Linked DNA regions of Homo sapiens. The protein of the gene in region 3 interacts with the protein of the main gene of each other region in a pairwise test. Each region holds a gene or a part of one and is shown on either strand. Other genes may lie near its edges.

Region 1 (6,624 bases), on a different chromosome or scaffold from region 3:
GACCCACGTCCGCTCTCAATAGAGTCAAAGCCTTCCCGTGGTCTGTGTCACAGCCTCCCTGCGCAATTGGGAACCCTAAGGGCTGTGGCTGGGGACAGGATGCTCAGCGTGCCAGCCAGGGCTGGGGTTTGCAGACAGCAGAGGCACTTTTAACTGTAGAGGTGAGCCTCACCCCACGTGCTCTGGGAAACTCTCCCTGGGTTTACGCCTAATGGCGTTTCTCTAGCTTCTGTGGGATCCGCACTCTGAGCTAGCTGTGGGGAACCCTTCCCTCTCCTGTTGGCAAGAGCCCAGCGCTCCCCCAGCACCTCTGGGCTCTGGCCCAGCAGGCAGCCCTTGCAATATTAGACCCTTACCCTGAGCCGGGCCAGACACCAGCTCATCTCAGATGCAGGGCAGCTCTCTGGACAAAACTCTCGGGGCAGCTGGCTGTGTCTCTCACTAGCTCAGCAGGCTTGGCCTGAGGCCCCTCTGCCCTCACTCAACCCCCTCCCCAGAATCCTTCCTGGGTTCCAAGTCGGCCCCTCATTATGGGGGCCCTGGCCCACGGTTCCCTGGGAGCTCTTCCTGCCTGTCGCTCGGGGTACATGCACGCAGGACTTACCGGCCCCCAATCCTAGCCCTGCCCTTGGCCTCCTTCCCTGAGACCTGGCCAGAGTCCCCCTTCACTGTGGCTGCTTCCAGGCAGCTCTGCAGGGAGGTCCAGAGACGGGGCTGACCCCATCCTTAGACTCCCAGGCCCCGTGACCCCTCTCCTGATATCCTCTTCCACCCCAGGGGACTCAGGGAGGAGGGGTCTCTGGATGTCTCTTTCCTCCCCTTGGGCTCCCACAGTGCTCAGCCACACCTGGGGTCTTGCCATGAATGAGTTCCCCCAGGCGCCTACCTGTGGGCCTTAGGCCCCGCCCAGCATTCCAAGGAGAGCCCCCAGCCCTCAGGCGTTCCTGCCACCCTGGGCCACGGGGCCCACTGGAGTCGTGGTATCGGAGAGAAATGAGTTTTTCCTTTTATTTGGCTGCTGCCCCTGCCTGCCTCTCCCGGATCCTGCCTCTCCCGGATCAGGCTTGGGCAGCAGCGCAGGCAGGGAAGGGGACTCCGCACTCATGTGCCCACGAGACCACAGCAGGCCCCACCCGCATTCCCACGCTCCCACACCTCCTGCCTCAAAGCCCTCACTCTCCTAAAAGCATCGAGAACACACAGGGCTCGGAGGCGCAGGAGTGCGAAGGCGGCATTCCAAGACGAGTTCGAGTCCAAGATGAGTTCAGGATCCTGAGCCTTTCTGGCAACTGCCTCCCTAGGCTGGGATGTGGGGGCGCAGCCCCAGGCCCCGGAGCTCCTTCTCTCTGCCCCAGGCTGGGATGTGGGGGCGCAACCCCGGGTCCCGGAGCTCCTTCTCTCTGGCGAGCTCCTTCTCTTCCACGCCAGGTCTCAGCCGGTCCAGTTCTGCTCTGTCCAAGACGCCTTTGCAGTCCCGGGTTTTATAGTCCAGCTGCCAGCCCGGCCTCCCTGCAGCCCAGCCGGTGCCTCGAGGCCGGTCAGGAGCGCGGATGGCCCATCCCGGGGGCGGATCGCAGGTAGCCCCGCGGCCAGGGAGGCGGCCCGGCAGAGGAAGCCCCCGGACAGCGGCGCCAGCTTCCCCCGGAGGCCTGTGCTAGGCCCGGCCCCTCGGCCACCGCACTGGGCCGTGCCAGGGGCGCGTGCGGGGGGCACGAGGCGCAGCGGGGCGCGGACGGCACCGAGGGGCGGGCGGCGTCTGGGCGCGCGAGGCTGGGCCCTGCAGGCGGCGGGGGGCTGGCGCCTGTGTCCCCGGTGTCCCCGCGCGCGGCCGGGCCGTGGCACTCCAGGTGTCCGCAGGGCCCGCGGGGCGCGGGGCTGGCGCGCAGGACCAGGGAGAGCGCGGCGATGCGGTGGATGGCCCTGCGCAGCGTGGCGATCTTGGAGAGCCTCTTGCCGCCCAGGTCGTGCCGCAGCGCCCGGCGCAGCGCGTTGAAGGCCTCGTTGTAGTCTAGGATGCGCTTGCGCTCCCGCACGTTGGCGGCCATGCGCCGCGCCTTGGACCGCACCGGCCGCGCGCGCCTCCTGCCCGCCGGCTCCTCCGCCTCGCCCCGGCTGCAGGAAGCGCCGTTCGCCCCCAGCACCCCCGAATCGCCCCCGGGCTCGGGGCAGGGGCCCCCCAAGTCCTCCGCAGAGTCCTCGGCCCCCTTCCGCGCCGTGAGGCCTAGTCCTGGCGCGCCCCGCAGCATGGCCTTCCCGGGCACTCGCCCTCTGCCCCAGCCCCGGCCCTCTGCCCTCTGCCCTCTGCCCACTGCCTTGGCCCGGCTCGCGACGCGGACGGTCCCCGGCTCCTGGGGCTGGACACTCCCGAGACAGGCCCCTTCCAGCTGGGCTTTATGGCACCACGCGGCGCCCCGCCCTCCCGTCCATCCATCTCCCTCCTCCTGCTTTATTATCGGCCTCCAGGTAGGTCGGCGGGGGAGGAACCGAGGGGAAGAAGGAAAGCAAGGAGGGAAGCTTGCAGGTTCTTGTAAGCGGGGACCAGACGGGCAGCCCGGCCACGCTGCCCCGGGGACCTTGCCCTGCCTAGCTCTGGGGCCGCTGTGGGGTGTCTGGGTTCCACATTCTTCCTCCCCATTCCCAGATAAGGTGCTAAGTTTGGCTTCTAGCAGGAGAGCTGATAGGAATAAAAAGAGGCAGAGGGCCGGGCACTGGGGCTCACGCCTGTCATCCCAGCAGTTTGGGAGGCCGAGGCGGGCGGATCACTTGAGTTCAGGAGTTCGAGACCAGCCTGGCCAACAGAGTATATAAAACCCCGTCTACTAAAAACACAAAAATTAGCCGGGCGTGGTGGCAGGCGCCTGTAATCCCAGTTACTCGGGAGGCTGAGGCAGGAGAATGGCTTGAGCCCAGGAGCTGGAGGTTGCAGTGAGCCGAGATCGCACCACTGCACTCTAGCCTGGGAGACAGAACGAGACTCCGTCTCAGAAAAACAACAACAAAAACAACAACAAAACCTTGAAAGTTCTTGTCAAGTCCCGTGGGCAACCACAGAGATGTCACTGAGGAAAAGCATGAGTGTCCCGGCAGGACTCATATGGGAGGCGCAGGGCCCTGCAGGTAAAGCTGACCCAGAGCTTCCGGCTTTTTCAGCTATGGAGGGCGGCTGGCTGCAATTGGGGTTCGGGTTTTGGTTGGGCCTGACTCTCCCTCCACTGCCCTTTGACTCCCCTTCTGCAGGCAGAGCTGGGATGAGTCAGCAGCAGAGGGTGACGGGGAAGATCCCTTTGCAGCCCTGGGTCCACATCAGGGGCATCTTTGGGGTCCAGAGCCCTCGGGCAGCCCCATCTTGTGACACAGCCCTGCCAGGTTATGAACTCAATGAGCAGCCTCTGTCCTCTTCCCCCAGGGATTTGCATTTGAAAGAGGGTCTCAGAAAAAAGATGATGTTTATTCCCAAAGAAAGACCCCCAGTAGAATTTCCGGCATCCACAGCTGAGTTATTTGGAGCGCCTGAAGGCCACTCATTCCCAGTCACAATCCAAATGCCTCTAAGATGCCAAGGCCTATGGCATTGGAATGGGTGTGTGGTTCACATCCATCTCGCCAAAAGAGCATTGCCAATAACCCCATTATTTCAAACTGTGAATTTCTCCATAAAAGAAAATAATAAGGCATTAGGAAGCAGAGTGTATGTATTTACTTCTGTGATTGTCTGCCTTGCCCACTAGGATGAAAGCATCCTAAGGACATCTGTATTTCCCAGGTTCTATGTCCCCCAAATCTGCAATATATGTCGAATTATAAAACAGCTAGAGGCCGGGCGCAGTGGCTCACGCCTGTAATCCCAGTACTTTGGGAGGCCGAGGTGGGCGGATCACTTGAGGTCAGGAGTTCAAGACCAGCCTGGCCAACACGGTGAAACCCCGTCTCTACTAAAATACAACAATTAGCTGGACGTGGTGGCGGGGAGCCTGTAGTCCCAGCTACTCGGGAGGCTGAGGCAGAGAATCGCTTGAACCAGGGAGGCGGAGGTTGCAGTGAGCCGAGATCCCGCCACTGCGCTCCAGCCTGGCGGACAGAGCGAGACTCCGTCTCAAAAACAACAAAAAATAAACCAGAAAAAAAAAAAAGGTCAGTAAAAGCAAAGAAAATGCCCACGCAGCGCGCGTTTCCCGGTGGCGTTTCCCGGCCGCTCCCGCCCTTCCCCGCGCACGTCAGGAAACGGCCCCACGCGAAGAACCCCGAGGACCCGGGAGAGGCGCCCCCTCCTGGAACCCGGGACTCCCGGGCGCTGCGGGGCGCGGCCGACTTCAAAGCGAGCGGCGGGCCCGGCATTTCCGCGGCACCTGCCCGTGCCCGGGAGCGCGAGTTCTCGGCCCGGGCGGGGGCGGGCGGGGGCGGGCGGGGCGCCGTGATTTAGGGTCTGGCGGTTCCGCCGGCGGCCGCGTAGGTGCCTATTAGCGCCGGGCGGGGCCTGGGCTTCAAAAGTTCCGGCTCTTCCTCCGGAAGTTCCGGCGCCGCTCCCCGAGGGAGGACGGAACGCCCGCCCGGGAGAGAAAGTCCGGGAGCCGCTCACGGGGGCCTCGACCCCACCCCCTCCGGAGAGCGGGTCCCGGGAAGCCCTGAGCCTCCTTCTCTCCCAGGCGAGACCCTGGCGTTTCAACCCACACGCCCGGTGTGGAAGACGTAGGGGCGCAATTGCAGCCTCTGCCCCTTCATGCGCTCATTCAACAAAAACTTTTTTTTTTTTGAGACCGAGTCTCGCTCTGTCGCCCAGGCTGGACCGCAGTGTCGCAATCTTGGCTCACTGCAAGCTCCACCTCTCGGGTTCAAGCGATTCTCCTGCCTCAGCCTCCCGAGTACGTGGGATTACAGGCACCCACCATCGTGCCCAGCTATTTTTTGTATTTTTACCAGAGACGGGGTTTCACCATGTTGGCCAGGATGGTCTCGAACTCCCGGCCTTAAGTGATCCGCCCGCCTCGGCCACCCAAAGTGCTGGGATTACAGACGTGAGCCACCGCTCCCGGCCCTGAACTGGATTTCAAAGGATGAATAGCAGTTTGCCAAGCAGACAGGAGGTAGAGGGAACAGCAGGTGCCAGGCCCTGGAAGTGTAAGCGGTCACAGGATGATGCGAAAAATACAGGAAAGTGACTTTGCCAAACCACCAAATGTGAGGCCAGGGAGTGACGGGAGATAAGGCTGGAGATCACCAGGCGTCGTCCCAAAAGCTTGCTTTTCGCCCTGTAGGCAGCTGGGTACTGCAAAAGGTTATTAAGCAGAGGAATGTCAGCCGTATTTGAATTACAGCTAGAGCTCTTTGAGCAGTGTGGAGAATGGATGTTAAGACAAATTCCACTTAGGAAGCAAGGATCCTGGAGGAAGGGGGGGCCTGAGCTATGCAGGCAGTGGTGAGAGAAGGGCACGGAGTCAACACCTGTTTGGAAAATAGAATTGACATGTGGGGGTGCCAATGGGATAAAGCAGATGACAAAAAGGGGTGTCGTCTCCATATTCTCCTTTAAGAGCAGAAGCCTTAGTTCAGAGACTCTCTCTACAAAGGTCCAGCCATGGACATGGGGACAAGAAAGCCAGTGGCATATGGTCACCTCAGACCCAGGGCACCCACGACTTCGGTTATTTTTTTTTTTTTTTTGAGGTGGAGTCTCGTTCTGTCTCCCAGGCTGGAGTGCAGTGGCGAAATCTCGGCTCACTGCAACCTCCACCTCCCGGGTTTAAGCGATTCTCCTGCCTCAGCCTCCTGAGTAGCTGGGACTACAGGCGTGTGCCGTGGTGGATGTTTTTGTTATCACTGTTTGCTATGTGGCATTTGAACAGCCTTCCTATCTGGGGAGAAGGGAGCCTCCATGGTGGGGCTCTGGGTGGCAGAGATTTCTGGTAACTGGGACAGATGCGAGTCCAGGCACTTGGCTGCCTGACTTGAATCTGGAGTGGTGTCCCAAAGAAACAAACAGGTAACAGTGGAGAAATCACGGTGCCAGTGCGGGGCCTGTGGCCCTCCACGTCCTACACTGGCATCTAGAGGAGGTTCCTGGCTTGGCCGTGGGTCTAGCTGCCCAGTTTCCTATAATTCTTACGAGTTTCCCAACCTTAATTTCCCAGACTCTTTTCTTTTTTCTTTTTGAGACGGAGTCTCACTCTGTTGTGCAGGCCGCAGTGCAGTGGCGCGATCTCGGCCCACTGCAACGTCCGTGTCCCTGGGCAAGCAATTCTCCTGCCTCAGCCTCCTGAGTAGCTGGGATTACAGGCGCCCGCCACTACGCCCGGCTAATTTTTTGTATTTTTATTAGAGACAGGGTTTCACCATGTTGGCCAGGCTGGTCTTGAACTCCTGACCTCAAGCGATTGGCCTGCCTCGGCCTCCCAAAGTGCTGGGATTACAGGCGTGAGTGACTGTGCCCTAGACTTTTTTTCCGTTGATTTTGTGAGCTACCTCAGAGCCAATACCTGCCTCTTCCTTCTGCTCAAGTTGGATTTGGTTGTTTCCAACCAAGAATCCTGACAACACAGCGTAGAGATAAGCAGTCATCCTGGTCAACCTCGCTGACTCCCAAGCCAATCCCAACTTCAAGAGGTGCAGCAGGTGACTTAACCTCTCTGA
Region 2 (7,652 bases), on a different chromosome or scaffold from region 3:
CTACTCATTTTTCTTTTCCCTTTACCACATCAATAGATACTTACATGGAAGTGCTTACATTTGATTGTTCAGTATTGTAGAGAGGTTTTTTTGTGTTTTTAAAATTCATCATTACCAAATTTAGATTTTTTGGATGCCAGTATTTTGTGTTTTTTTTAAAACAAGGTTTCATTCCAAATGTAAGGAGGGTTAGCAAAACCTCGTTTTTCTCTTTAATTTTTTTTAAAAGTACATTTATAAAATCTTTGTAGATTTCATGTAACTTTTGCTTTGCAGGGAAGATGCAGGTGTGAGCCACCGTGCCCGGCCTCATATAGATTTTTAAAACTTGAGGTAGCTTGTGAAGTTATTTCTACTAACTTTATAAAACTTTTGAGATTGCTATGTACAGTTAGTTTTGTGGGTTTTTTTTTTTAAGGGAAGTGAAGATTGCATTCTCTTAGGCTGTTTAGTTACTCAGAATACTAGATTGGCCTAGCCAAACCTGTAAAGGTATTTATTTGGTAGAGAAAATTTGAAGCTGTGGTTTCATTTGTATCTCCATTTGAAAAAATACAGTTGTTTCTTGGTGTCCACAGGGGATTGGTTCCAGGACCCCCCTGCCCATACCAAAATCCAAGCGTGCCCAAGTCCCTTATATAAAATGGTGTGGTATTTGCACGTAACTAACACACATCCTCCCATATTTTAAATCATCTGTGGATTGCTTGCAATACCTAACACAATGTAAATGCTGTGTAAAAAGTTGTTATACCGTATTGGTTTTTTTATTTGTATTTTTTGTTGTATTGTTTTATTTTCTTAATATTTTCAGCCTGGGGTTAGATGTGGAACCTGTAGATACAGAGGGCCAACTCTATATTGAATAGAAAATAATAATAATAGAAAATATGTGATTCTGGCTGGGCGTGGTGGCTCACACCTGTAATCCCAGCACTTTGGGAGGCCAAGGCGGGTGGATCACCTGAGGTCAGGAGTTTGAGACCAGCCTGACCAACATGGTGAAACCTTATCTCTAATAAAAATACAAATATTAGCCCGGTGTGGTGGCGTGCATCTGTAATCCCAGCTACTCTGGAGGCTGAGACAGGAGAGTTGCTTCAACCTGGGAGGCGGAGGTTGCAGTGAGCCGAGATCGAACTCCAGCCTGGTGACAGAGCAAGACTCCATCTCAAAAAAAAAGAAAGAAAGAAAATATGTGATTCTAATAAATCCCCCTTCCGTTCTGTAAACTTTCGTATTTACTTTGTGAGTTGTTAATTGGATTAAATTTTGTTTGCTTAAATTTATAAGTATTGTTATATTCAAGAGAGATGAAGGCTTATTTTGTGCCTTTTATAGTGGTAATGAAAATTTGTAACACTTTAAATTGCAAAAGAGAAAAATTAAACCTTTCTAATCAAAAGATCTAATGGTTACCACCATACCCATATGATCAACCTTAGCATTGCTGTTAGACGGCCTGACGCAGTGTGCCTGCTGTGTGTTGCAGGAAGGGGCACACTGCCTCACCTGGGAAGTGTTCCTGCCTAAAAGCTTTACCCTGAATTCGATCAGGCCTTTAACCTCCAGGTTTCAGGAATTACAAGGCATAGAGGAACAAGCTCAACTAAATAACCAGGTAGTTATTAGACAGATCTAGAACAAACAGCATTTTACAAGATAGTGTCAGAGGAAAAAAAGGAAGAGGAGATGAAGATGATGGTGATGATGATGATGGGGAAGAGGGACTGTTCTTAATCAAGACACTTAAAAACCAAAAGCATTTCAGGAACTTTGGTAGGATCCTGGTTCAAAAAAAAAATCAGCTGTTTAAAGGACATTTTTGGGATATCTTGGAGAATCTGAATGTGAACTGGATGGGAAATGACATGGGAATTAGTGATTTTATTAGGGGTAGTAATCTGACAGGAGAATGTCCACGGTTTCAGGAGATTGGGGTGAAGTGTCATGATGTCTCCAACTTTCTTTCAAATGGTCTAGCAAAAAATACAGGTGTAAGGGCAAGAAGTATGGTAGAACATTAACAATAATTGAATGTATAGAAATGATTTTCTTTTAAAAACTTTTTTTTGTAGATTCATAATAAAGGAGATAGGAAGGATTCTATATCCTAGTAGGAGGGAACAAAACTCTTATCCCCAAGTATCTTTTGAAAGTGACTAAGTTTACTGTAAACCTTTCACAGAAATGGAGAAAATCTCATGTTTTTGAAAAAGCTGAAAGAAAATAATATATGATTATAGTAATAAATTAAAAGGCTGTTGTTTTGAGATTATGGTTTTCTCATATCTCAAAGGTTTGTTGCAGGGACCAGAAAGAAAATCTTTGTTGCAAACAGTGTGAATTTTAATTTGAAACTTCAGTATGTTTTCCTTGTTTTTGATGATTTTAGAGCCAAAGGACGAAACAAAGTACAGTCCTCGCCCCAGTCATTGACCTGAAGCGAGGTGGCTCCTCAGATGACCGGCAAATTGTGGACACTCCACCGCATGTAGCAGCTGGGCTGAAGGTAAGCCCGCGCCTGCCTGTGAGCTTGATACGTGTCTCTGTTCCCATGTGGCTTATTTTGCATATGAGTTACTCTTAACAGATGGCCTCCTTGGTGGGCCTTTGAAACCAAGTTAGTATCATTTTCCACCTAATTTTTACTTCTGTTTTGCCAATTTTAAAATGTATCTATTTGAAATTAAATAGTTTGTTGTAGAAAAATCAGAAACTAGAGATACGCAGAAAGAAAAACAAATTACCTTCAGTCATACAATCCGGAAGTGAAAAACGTAATATTTTTCCATCCTGTGCCTACTCCACCTTCTGCTAACTTGCTTTTCTTACTTAATACGTTGTGACTCTGTCAAAAAATACAGGACTGTATGATCACGTTTATGGCTTCACTATATTCCCTTGTATATAGATGGACTATAATTTAATTCCTTTAATGCTGGATATATGGGTTGTTTCTATTTTTTGCTATCATAAACAGTGTTAGTACTTACTGATTTATTGTGGATTAAAACAGAGAAAGGGGTTTTAAAACCCACTTCTACCACCCTAACCTGTATGATTCCAGTGATTTTACATATGCTTAAAAACAAACATGTGGTCAACTCTATAAATTGGGTTATTGAGGATGAAGAAGATCTGGAAAAGGATAACTCAAAATCATAGTTAAAACTAGACAAAATGAGGTAAAATGAGTGAATAAACTAGTTAAAATTATACCCACAATTTAAGTATACATTTATCTTTCCACAGATGGCGTTCAAATAATGACTGTGGTCATTTAAACAGCATCATGAATTGCACAAAACCGCTTGATGAAAAATGACCAAAAGATTAATAATAGTGCTATCGAGACAGTTTCTTAGCAAGGCGCGCCTGTCCTCCCCACCACCTGTGGGAAGGGCTGCATCAGGCTGGGGCAAAGGGCACACTCCTGCCCATCTGTTTCACGTCACTGTTCTGGGTTGGGCTCCGTCTCCTGCCTGTCCTGCTTATGTTCTGGGCCAGTCTGTGGCTGCAGCTTACCCTTGAGTTGTCCTTTTCTGAGGGGAGCGGGTGCTGTTCCTGAGGGCTGGTAGTTCTTCTGGAGGGGAAGCACCACATGGTGGAGGTGTTTTTTTGCTGATTCCTAGTCATTGAGCATTTTCCCCCATAAATTTGATACCTAGTTTATTCCTGCTACATCTAATTTAAAAACTGGTTCATAGTTTCTTCTGTAATCGTGTATTGGTTCTAGTACCTATAATATTAGTCTCCTATTTAATGAGTAAGCCTTTTTCCTCCTTGTTACATAGTTTTCACGATCAGTTTTTAATTCTCATTAAGCGAATGCATCATAATTTACACAAGTATTCCCTAACTGTAAAACCACCTAGATTTGCTTTTACATTGCCTTTATAAATACCACTCTAATGAACATCTTTTTGTGGTTTTTATTTTTGAGACAGGGTCTTGCTCTGTCACCACGCTGGAGAGCAGTGGTGCAATCTTGGCTCACTGCAGCCTCCTCCTCCTGGGCTCAAGCGATCCTTCCACCTCAGTCTACTGAGTAGTTAGGACCACAGGCATATGCCACCACATTTGACTAATTTTTTGTAGAGATGAGGTTTCACCATGTTGCCCAGGCTAGTTTTGAACTCCTGAGCTCAAACGATCCACATGCCTTGGCCTCCGAAATTGCTGAGATTACAGGCATGAGCCACTGCACCCGGCCCTCTAATGAACATCTTTACAGAGATGTTTCTATGTAATTAGGGTTATTTTCTTAGATTTTCTGAGGTGGCATTAAGATATCAGCCATTTTTATGGCCAATCTGTTCTGGCACCAGTTTACTCCCAGCAGTGCACAGTATCACCTCAGGCATATGAGGGTGAATTTTACCCCATCCTCCCCCCTCAGCATTGAGGGTATTAACATTTTAATTTTTTTAAATTGAACAAATCACTTTATTCATTGCAGCATTTAGAAAAGGATGATTGATTTCATTGTTAAGCATAGCAGGGTTTATATGTAAAAGTTTTTTTCTTTGAAATTTTGAAGTGTCAGAGAATGAACCTTCATATTGACAGTTTGTTCTCTTAGACACGTTGTGATAATTGTGTTAGATAAATTGAGTGGCTGGTTGTCATTTTCTCTCTAAATAATAACTGAAAAGAAATCTTCATGTGCTTTTGTATTTTTTAAATGTCTTTTATAAAATGAATACAAATGTATAACTAACCTTTAGGAGCCCTACATTAAATACATTTTCCAGTGGGTAGGGCCTGGGAGGTGATTATAGTTATTTTCCTAATTGCTCTTATTCATTGGATCATAGCATTTCCTGATATTTCGTCGTAAGGAAATGGTGAAGTGTTTGTTTTATAGTGCAAAATGTCACACCGAACCATGAAACACAGGAACTGTTCGATTTAGGTCTGTTAATATGGCGTGTAAGCTGTCTTGATTTTGTCAGTTCTGTGTTCAAGCAGGAAACACGTTTACAAACGACCTTCTTGCCTTTGATACAGTTGGACATTGTACCTCCTGTAAGAGGTACAGACTGGGCGCTCAAGGACATGAATCCTTGTTGTTTTGCATGTGTGTTTTAAAAAAAATGGGGACACTAATCCTAACCTGTGCTTGTTTGAGGTGTCTTTCAAAACCAGAGAAGGCATCTTATTGTTACAGATAATAACGAAGAATTATGCTAAGAACACTAACAGGAGAAAGTGTGGGAAGGTTTAGGAAAGTGGGGTCAGGGCTTCCAGCACCACGTGTAGACCGAGGCTGCCAGCCTAGGGTAAAGTTCTGTGTCTGCTCATGTATTTCCTAGTATACTGGCTGTGCTCTGCCTCTCGTTTTGCTAATTTCTTTGTCATGGCTACCTCTTTTCTTTCAAAGAGTAGACCAAGTTTCTGAATGTATAGACGAGAAAACACGAAGTGTTATCTAAACCTGATTTTAGTGAACCTTAAAAAAAATTATGATGCTGGAAGGGACATTACATCCCCTTGTGTCAAACTCAGTGCCTGAAATGCAGCCTACCTGGGAAGGGACATGTGTTCAGAGGATTAGAAAGACCAAGAAGATGCTTTCTAAGATCTCCATATATTCTTATCTCCATGTAATCAGAATCTGAAGTTATTCTGTTAAAATGATGACTGCAAGAATGATTGTGGTGTTCATGGTTGTTTTATTTTTTAAGTTGTCATAGAGATCTATAAAAACAAGTATTCAGTGCTTTACTATAAGTATTCTAATTTTTTGACTCAAAGTACTAGTAACTTATATTTTAGCTGGTGGTGGCTTATTTAGGAATTCCAGGAAAAATGCCATAGAGTATTATAGAAATAGTACTAATCTAAGAGGTGAAATTTTGTGTCCTGTTTCTGCTACCACCTGACTAGGCACGTGGCCTTGTCTGGTATTTGTTTTCTTTGTCTTTAAAACAGAGGAAGGGGCTAGATGATGTTCAGAGTCCTTTTATCTCCCATACGCTTTGACCTGAATCCTGTGAGTAAACTGGTAAGATATAAAGAGGATTCTTACTGCTGTTTTTACCTTCCTCAGGATCCTGTTCCCAGTGGGTTTTCTGCAGGGGAAGTTCTGATTCCCTTAGCTGACGAATATGACCCTATGTTTCCTAATGATTATGAGAAAGTAGTGAAGCGCCAAAGAGAGGAACGACAGAGACAGCGGGAGCTGGAAAGACAAAAGGAAATAGAAGAAAGGGAAAAGTAAGGCTTCCTTTGGATTTGGGGATATTTTACAGTTGAAATGTTCATTAAAATGTTAACGAATGAGCGTCGCTGCTGTCTGTAAGGCTGAAGTTAATTGTCATGGGTGATCTGAGCAGTCACTACAAGGAATCAAACTGTTTTACGATTTGTACCTGTTACATCTCAGAATCACAGCAAACTTCACCTGTAGACTGAAGACCTAAAGTGTATATTTTGAGTGAGTTGTTAGAAAAATAACTTATAAACCTGATGTTGAAAATTTTTTTCTATGCTGATACTCTGCTATAGGTTGACTATCCCTTATTCAAAAATCCGAAATCTGAAATGCTCCAAAATCTTTTGAATGCCAACATGCCGCTCAAAGGAAATGTGCATTGGGGGATTTTGGCTTAGGGATGCTGAACTGGTAATTGTAATGCAAATATTCCAAAATTTGAAACACTTCTGGTCCCAGGCATTTGGAATAAGGGATTCTCAACTTGTAAAATCACAGCTATTTAAAGTACTTGAAATATTCTTCTTAACTTTACTATTTTTGAGCCAGGTGGAATTTTTAAAAATTCATATGCAGCTTTTATTTATGTTTTTGCAAAGTACGAGTAGTAGGATGTATTTGTAGTTCTTTTTAAAAATATTTAGTATTATCAAATAGTTAACATGTATTAAATATTAATATACTGTTTCCCATTTATTGAATCATTTCATGAGTGAAAGTGTTATAGACTATTGAAATGATTGAACTATTACTATGTTGATAGGCTTTAACATTGGAAGAGGTCAATGTCAAGGAACCTTTTTTTTCATGCTGGTTGCTCTCGTATACTTATTGGTTCAATTTATCTCTTGAATTTTTCTCACTTTTCATACTTTTATCTACTTTAGTCTTTTACCAGTTATGCTTCCTACCCCCTCTACCCCTGCAACTTCATAGTTGATTGTGACAGGATTTGGATATCTTCTGGTCAAGAGGAAGTCATCCCAGGTTCAGGTCTCTAAATTGGTTCATCTGTGATGAACATTTATTTCCTTTGTTATCACAGAAGGCGTAAAGACAGACATGAAGCAAGTGGGTTTGCAAGGAGACCAGATCCAGATTCTGATGAAGATGAAGATTATGAGCGAGAGAGGAGGAAAAGAAGTAAGGCATGAACAAATATGTCTTAAACATATATAAATACTGGAAGTGCAATTCCACTATGTGCTTTTTCTTTTCAGTTTGATAAATAGTTCATTTGACATTGATTTGGGTAATTTTCTTTCTGGAATCCCAGCAATACACATTTGCGTCACAGTTTTAATTTATATTGGGTTTTCATATGTATTTTCCTTTGAGCTTCACAACCACTTTCTAACATTTATTTATTGGATACTTTGGGACTAGCTTAAAATCTATTCCTGCACTGTCTTTACCTGCAGCACAGTCCAGT
Region 3 (7,652 bases):
TGTCTACCAGGCTGCCTTTTGGGTGGATTCTCCTCCAACTGTGGGGTGACTGCTTGGCAAACTCACTCTTCGGGGTATCCCAGGAGGCCTGGAGCATTGGGGTGGGCTGGGGTTCAGAGAGGAGGGATTCCCTTCTCAGGTTACGTGGCCAAGAAGCAGGGGAGCTGGGTTTGGGTCAGGTCTGGGTGTGGGGTGACCAGCTTATGCTGTTTGCCCAGGACAGCCTAGTTTTAGCACTGAAACCCTCAGTCCTAGGAAAACAGGGATGGTTGGTCACTGTCTCTGGGTGACTCTTGATTCCCGGCCAGTTTCTCCACCTGGGGCTGTGTTTCTCGTCCTGCATCCTTCTCCAGGCAGGTCCCCAAGCATCGCCCCCCTGCTGTGGCTGTTCCCAAGTTCTTAGGGTACCCCACGTGGGTTTATCAACCACTTGGTGAGGCTGGTACCCTGCCCCCATTCCTGCACCCCAATTGCCTTAGTGGCTAGGGGGTTGGGGGCTAGAGTAGGAGGGGCTGGAGCCAGGATTCTTAGGGCTGAACAGAGAAGAGCTGGGGGCCTGGGCTCCTGGGTTTGAGAGAGGAGGGGCTGGGGCCTGGACTCCTGGGTCCGAGGGAGGAGGGGCTGGGGCCTGGACTCCTGGGTCTGAGGGTGGAGGGACTGGGGGCCTGGACTCCTGGGTCCGAGGGAGGAGGGGCTGGGGCCTGGACTCGTGGGTCTGAGGGAGGAGGGGCTGGGGGCCTGGACTTCTGGGTCTTAGGGAGGCGGGGCTGGGCCTGGACCCCTGGGTCTGAATGGGGAGAGGCTGGGGGCCTGGACTCCTTCATCTGAGGGCGGAAGGGCTGGGGCCTGGCCTCCTGGGTTGAATGGGGAGGGGTTGGGCCTGGACTCTGGAGTCCCTGGTGCCCAGGCCTCAGGCATCTTTCACAGGGATGCCTGTACTGGGCAGGTCCTTGAAAGGGAAAGGCCCATTGCTCTCCTTGCCCCCCTCCCCTATCGCCATGACAACTGGGTGGAAATAAACGAGCCGAGTTCATCCCGTTCCCAGGGCACGTGCGGCCCCTTCACAGCCCGAGTTTCCATGACCTCATGCTCTTGGCCCTCGTAGCTCCCTCCCGCCTCCTCCAGATGGGCAGCTTTGGAGAGGTGAGGGACTTGGGGGGTAATTTATCCCGTGGATCTAGGAGTTTAGCTTCACTCCTTCCTCAGCTCCAGTTCAGGTCCCGGAGCCCACCCAGTGTCCACAAGGCCTGGGGCAAGTCCCTCCTCCGACCCCCTGGACTTCGGCTTTTGTCCCCCCAAGTTTTGGACCCCTAAGGGAAGAATGAGAAACGGTGGCCCGTGTCAGCCCCTGGCTGCAGGGCCCCGTGCAGAGGGGGCCTCAGTGAACTGGAGTGTGACAGCCTGGGGCCCAGGCACACAGGTGTGCAGCTGTCTCACCCCTCTGGGAGTCCCGCCCAGGCCCCTGAGTCTGTCCCAGCACAGGGTGGCCTTCCTCCACCCTGCATAGCCCTGGGCCCACGGCTTCGTTCCTGCAGAGTATCTGCTGGGGTGGTTTCCGAGCTTGACCCTTGGAAGGACCTGGCTGGGTTTAAGGCAGGAGGGGCTGGGGGCCAGGACTCCTGGCTCTGAAGGAGGAGGGGCTGGAACCTCTTCCCTAGTCTGAGCACTGGAAGCGCCACCTGTGGGTGGTGACGGGGGTTTTGCCGTGTCTAACAGGTACCATGTGGGGTTCCCGCACCCAGATGAGAAGCCCCCTCCCTTCCCCGTTCACTTCCTGTTTGCAGATAGCCAGGAGTCCTTTCGTGGTTTCCACTGAGCACTGAAGGCCTGGCCGGCCTGACCACTGGGCAACCAGGCGTATCTTAAACAGCCAGTGGCCAGAGGCTGTTGGGTCATTTTCCCCACTGTCCTAGCACCGTGTCCCTGGATCTGTTTTCGTGGCTCCCTCTGGAGTCCCGACTTGCTGGGACACCGTGGCTGGGGTAGGTGCGGCTGACGGCTGTTTCCCACCCCCAGGCCTGCATTGATGAGAACCTGGAGGTGGTGCGCTTCTTGGTGGAGCAGGGCGCCACTGTGAACCAGGCAGACAACGAGGGCTGGACGCCACTGCACGTGGCCGCCTCCTGTGGCTACCTAGATATCGCCAGGTGAGGCAAGGGAGGGCCGGGCAGGACCTGGTCGGGGTGGGGGCCTGGACCCTCAGCCCTGACCAGCCCCCACCCCCAGGTACCTCCTGAGCCACGGGGCCAACATCGCCGCCGTCAACAGTGACGGGGACCTGCCCCTGGACCTGGCCGAGTCGGACGCCATGGAGGGGCTGCTGAAGGCGGAGATCGCCCGCCGAGGTGGGCTCTGGTGTGCTGTGTGTGGGGTGGGGGACACCTCCTCACCCGTGGTCTCCAGGCTGAGAGCTTTAGAGGCGGCCTGGGCACCGAGGCTGACCCTGCTTCCTAGGATTGTCTTTCTTTGTGCCTCAGTTTCCTCACCTGTGAAATGGGGGTGTAGGGGCCTGCCTCCAGGATTGCTTGGAGCCCAGCACACGCACAGGATGAGAACTCAAACCCCTACCAACTGGGACTGTCAATCCCCCTGAGTAACTGAGGGGATTGGAATGCCGGGGCGGGGTGGGTGGGTGGAGGGACTCACCCAGGAGTGCGTTAGGTAGGATTGCTGGAACCCTGCCGCAGGTCTTTCTGGGAGGGGATGCGTTTACTTGGGGGGGAGTAGGGGCATGCAGGGGTTGCCAGGGACTGGTCTCCCTGTCCTCTGAGACTCATCGTACCCCAGGAGCCTTCATATGGGGTCCAGGAGCCCCTGAAACTGTGTCTGGCCAGGTTCATTTTTCTAGGGAAGGGGTGTTGCTTCTAGCAGGTGTGTGATGGCCACACAGGATCCCTGGGTCCCCAGCATGTCTTCTAAAGTCCTGGGCTTGCCTCCCAGCTCTGCCTGTGACTGGTGACTCCAGGCACGTCCCTGAAGCTTGCTTCCCTGATTTCCTAAAACAGGACCACTGGTGCCGCTTCATGGGGTGGTTGTCAGGGTCTGGCTGGGTTGGAGTGGAAGGGTGTGAGCATGGTTCCCGGCAGACTCCAGGGGACCGTGTGGAAGGAAAGGGAGACTGACGAGGAAATGAGATACCGGCAGCCTCCGAGACTTCTGACGCGGCTGTCCTGACGGGGCCGCTGGCCAGGCTGAAAGGATAGGATTCCGCGTGGGTTCAGGGGTCCACGAGAGCCATGCGGGAGGACTAGCTAGTGGGACACGTGACGGCGGAGATCTGAGGTTCGGGAGCCCCTCTTTGGTTGAAATGGGGAGTGGGTCAAATCAGCCCTGGACCTGGATTCTGTCTCCTTCCTCCTCCAACTTTTTATTTTGGGAAAGCTTCAGATTTACAGAAAAGTTGAAGCAATAGCATGTGACTACCCATATGACTTTCACTAAGATTCGCCAGTGCTTTTTCTTTTTTGTTTTTGTTTTTTAGACAGCTTTTTGAGATGTAATTCACCTACCCTACAATTCACCCAAAGTGCACACTTCAGTGCTTTTTAGTCTATTCACGGGGTCGGGCATTTATGACCACATTGGTTGTAGAACATTTTCATCATCCCCCAACGAAACCCTGCAACCGCTTAGCCATCACCCCCAACCATGCACCCCCCCCTCCCCCCCACCCCACGAAGCCCTCTCTGCCTTCTGTCTGTGGATTTGCTGTTTTGTACACTTCACATAAAGGGAATCATACAGTATAGAATCATCAGCTTTTAACTTTTTGATAGATTTGTGTTCCTTCTCTCTGTCCCTCCCTTGCGATCTCTTCCCAGGTATAGACATAAACACATTTTTTCCTATCCTTTCTCCTCCTGTTTTTTTCCCTCCATCTCTCCCTTCCTTTCTTACCACCCCACCCCTGCCTTTCCATTCCTGAGCCTTTTTTTTTTTTTTGAAACAGAGTTTCACTTTTTGCCCAGGCTGGAGTGCAATGGCATGATTTCGGCTCACTGCAACCTCCACCTCCTGGGTTCAAGCGATTCTCCTGCCTCAGCTTCTGGGTAGCTGAGATTACAGGCGTGAGCCAGCATGCCCAGCTAATTTTGCATTTTTAATAGAGATGGGGTTTCACCATGTTGACCAGGCTGGTCTCCAACTCCTGACCTCAGGCGATCTGCTGGCCTCGGCCTCGCAAAGTGTTGGGATTACAGGCGTGAGCCCGGCCATTCTGAGACTGTGTTGCAGGCATTGTACATCTTCGCCTGATGCACAGCAGGTATCTCCTGCCACAAGGAAAACCTCCTGCAGAACCACAGTAGGGATGCAACACGCTACCCCCTGTGTTGACCTTGATGCTACACTCTCACCCACCGCACCAACCTTGATGCTACACTCTCACCCACCGCACCAACCTTGATGCTACACTCTCACCCACCGCACCAACCTTGATGCTACACTCTCACCCACCGCACCAACCTTGATGCTACACTCTCACCCACCGCACCAACCTTGATGCTACACTCTCACCCACTGCACCAACCTTGATGCTACACTGTTGCCTGCGTTTCTCCTTGACATTCTTTGTAGCCTCTCCCGCTCTGGTTCAGGGCCCAGCTAGGGATCCAGATCTGGGTGATTTAGGCTCCCTCTGTCTGGATCAGTCCTCCTTTTCCCTTGGACCCCAGGGAGGCCGGGAATGGCCTCCAGGGGGTCTGTGAACTTTCTGACGTTGTATTTTCCTGCAGAAATTGCTCATAACTTGCATCAGCTTCTCAGAGGGGGCCATGCTTCTTCCCTCCCGTGGGGTGAGGAGAAGGCTGGGAGGGATACATTGGTGGGGGATATTGGCTTGTAGGATCAGCCAGGAACGAAGACCACTGGGGCCACTGGAAAGACCCTCAGCCGTGCTGCTCGGGGTGGGACTCTGCGGCCCCAAATCACAAGGCGACTGCCTGTGACACCCTGTGACACCCGGCTCCACACAGGAGCCTCAGAGGGGCTGCAGTGCGCAGGACCTGGATCACAGGCTGCACCCCAGCTCTAAGGAGGGCGGGTCTTTTGCACCCCCTGCAGGACACGCCCACATGATGCAGAATTCCCCGAGGTGCTGGCATCCAGACTGGCTCTGGCCATAGTGTGGCCCTGGCAGCCACTCACAGGCAGGGCTGGGAGAGAAGACAGACCGGCCTCAGGCACGACCATCCCCTTCGCTTTCCCTGGCTTACTTGCTGTTTTCCTCTCTCTGGGTCTGGGGTTCAGTGAGAGCACGTGATCTGCTCAGCCAGTCACCTCGTGGCCTGGAGCCACCGCTCCCTCCAACACCGCAAAGTCCTCTGGCCCAGTCGACTCAGGGGCTGAATCGGGCATGACTCTTTGCAAGAACCAAAACCCGTTCCTCCTGGCTCAGGCCGGAAAAGGCCATTTGAGGCCTGGCACAGTGGCTCAGACCTGTAAGCCCAGCACTTTGGGAGGCCAAGATGGGAGGATCTCTTGAGCCCAGGAGTTTGAGACCAGCCTGGGAAACCTAGTGAGAACCCATCTCTATAAAACAAAACACATTAGCCAGGCGTGGGAATGCACGTACGCTCCCAGCTACTCAGTAGGCTGAGGTGAGAAGATTGCTTGAGCCTGGGAGGTGGAAGATGCAGTGAACCACGGTCACTCCAGCCTGGGGGCAAGACCCTGTCTCAACCAAATAAACCAAAACAAAAAAGGCAATTTATATACCCGTGTTCATAGCATCGTTCACAATAGCCCAGAGGTAGGAGCAACCTAGTGCCCATCATCGAATGAATGGAAAATCAACATGTGGCCCATCCATGCGGTGGGACATGATTCAGTCTTCATCCCAGCACTTAGGGAGGCCGAGGCGGGCGGATCACCTGAGGTCGGGAGTTTGAGGCCAACCTGACCAACATGGAGAAACTCTGTCTCTACTAAAAATACAAAATTAGCCAGGGGTGGTGGCACATCCCTGTAACCTCAGCTGCTCAGGAGGCTGAGGCGGGAGAATCACTCGAACCTGGGAGGTGGAGGTTGTGGTGAGCCAAGATCGTGCCACTGCACTCTAGCCTGAGCAACAAGAGGAAACTGTGTCTCAAAACAAAAAACAAAACAAGACAAAACAAAAAACACACAATGTAGATGTATCTTGAGGACATTATGCTAAGTGAAAAGTGAAAATAAGCCAGTCACAGAAGGACAATTACTGTCTGATTCCACGTCTGTGAGGTACCCAGAATAGTCAAAATAATGGAGACAGACAGTAGAATGGCTGTAGTCAGGGACTGGGAGGAGTGGGGAGAATAGGAAGTAGTTTAGTGGGTACACATTTTTTAAAATGATTTTTATATTTTTTGTGGAGACGGGGTTTCACCACGTTGCCCAAGCTAGTCTGGAACTCTTGAGCTCAAGTGATCCACCCACCTTGGCCTCCTAAAGTGCTGGGATTGCAGGTGTGAGCCATTGTCCCTGACCTAGGGTACACGATTTTAATTTTGCAAGATGAAAAAATTCTGGAGATTGGTTGCACAACAACCAATTGTGACTACTTAATGCCACTGAATTGGGGTTAAAATGGTAAATTTTAGGCTGGGCGCGGTGGCTCAGGCCTGTAATCCAGCACTTTGGGAGGCCGAGGTGGGCAGATCACCTGAGGTCAGGAGTTTGAGACCAGCCTGGCCAACATGGTGAAACCCCGTCTCTGCTGAAAATATAAAAGTTAGCCGGGCATAGCGATGTACACCTATAGTCCCAGCTACTCGGGAGGCTGAGGCAGGAGAATTGCTTGAACCCAGGAGATGGAGGTTGCAGTGAGCCGAGATCTCACCACTGCACTCCAGCCTGGGCAACAGAGCAAGACTCAGCATCTCAAAAAAAAAAAAAAAAGATGGTAAATTTTATACTGTGTGTATTTTACCACATTTTTTTCACTCTGAGATGGAGTTTCTTTATTTTTATTTTTATTTTTTATTTTTTTAATTTATACTTTAAGTTCTATGGTACATGTGTACAACATGCAGGTTTGTTACATATGTATACATGTGCCATGTTGGTGTGCTGCACCCATTAACTCGTCATTTACATTAGGTATATCTCCTAATGCTGTCCCTCCCCCCACCCCACGACAGGCCCCAGTGTGTGATGTTCCCCTTCCTGTGTCCAAGTGTTCTCATTGTTCATTTCCCACCTATGAGTGACAACATGCAGTGTTTGGTTTTCTGTCCTTGCGATAGTTTGCTGAGTGATGGTTTCCAGCTTCATCCATGTCCCTACAAAGGACATGAATTCATCCTTTTTTATGGCTGCATAGTATTCCATGGTGTATATGTGCCACACTTTCTTAATCCAGTCTATCATTGATGGACATTTGGGTTGGTTCCAAGTCTTTGCTATTGTGAAAAACAGCAGCAATGGAGTTTCACTCTTGTTGCCCAGGCTGGAGTGCAGTGGCATGGTCTTGACTCACTGCAACCTCTGCCTCCCGGGTTCAAGCAAGTCTCCTGCCTCAGCCTTCCAAGTAAGTGGGATTACAAGCACCCGCCACCATGCCCAGCTAATTTTTGTATTTTTAGTAGAGATGGGGTTTCACCATGTTGGCCAGGTTGGTTTTGAACTCCTGACCTCAGCTGATCCACCCGTCTCGGCCCCCCAAAGTGCTGGGA

The links. Proteins that work in one complex are often made in the same cells at the same time.
Region 1: the proteins of PPP1R12C (region 3) and BHLHA9 interact in binary tests that used the Homo sapiens proteins (3 or more experiments, as listed by UniProt).
Region 2: the proteins of PPP1R12C (region 3) and RBM17 interact in binary tests that used the Homo sapiens proteins (3 or more experiments, as listed by UniProt).

Annotation. Positions count from the first base shown.
Region 1 is NC_000017.11:1,266,186-1,272,809, reverse strand, and holds BHLHA9 (class A basic helix-loop-helix protein 9), read right to left. Parts: upstream 2,367-6,624; 5' UTR 2,247-2,366; coding exon 1,539-2,246; 3' UTR 995-1,538; downstream 1-994. UniProt on the Homo sapiens protein: Transcription factor, which play a role in limb development. Is an essential player in the regulatory network governing transcription of genes implicated in limb morphogenesis.
Region 2 is NC_000010.11:6,098,876-6,106,527, forward strand, and holds part of RBM17 (splicing factor 45), read left to right. Parts: intron 1-2,395; coding exon 2,396-2,512; intron 2,513-6,055; coding exon 6,056-6,222; intron 6,223-7,265; coding exon 7,266-7,363; intron 7,364-7,652. UniProt on the Homo sapiens protein: Splice factor that binds to the single-stranded 3'AG at the exon/intron border and promotes its utilization in the second catalytic step. Involved in the regulation of alternative splicing and the utilization of cryptic splice sites.
Region 3 is NC_000019.10:55,107,160-55,114,811, reverse strand, and holds part of PPP1R12C (protein phosphatase 1 regulatory subunit 12C), read left to right. Parts: intron 1-2,016; coding exon 2,017-2,147; intron 2,148-2,226; coding exon 2,227-2,345; intron 2,346-7,652. UniProt on the Homo sapiens protein: Regulates myosin phosphatase activity.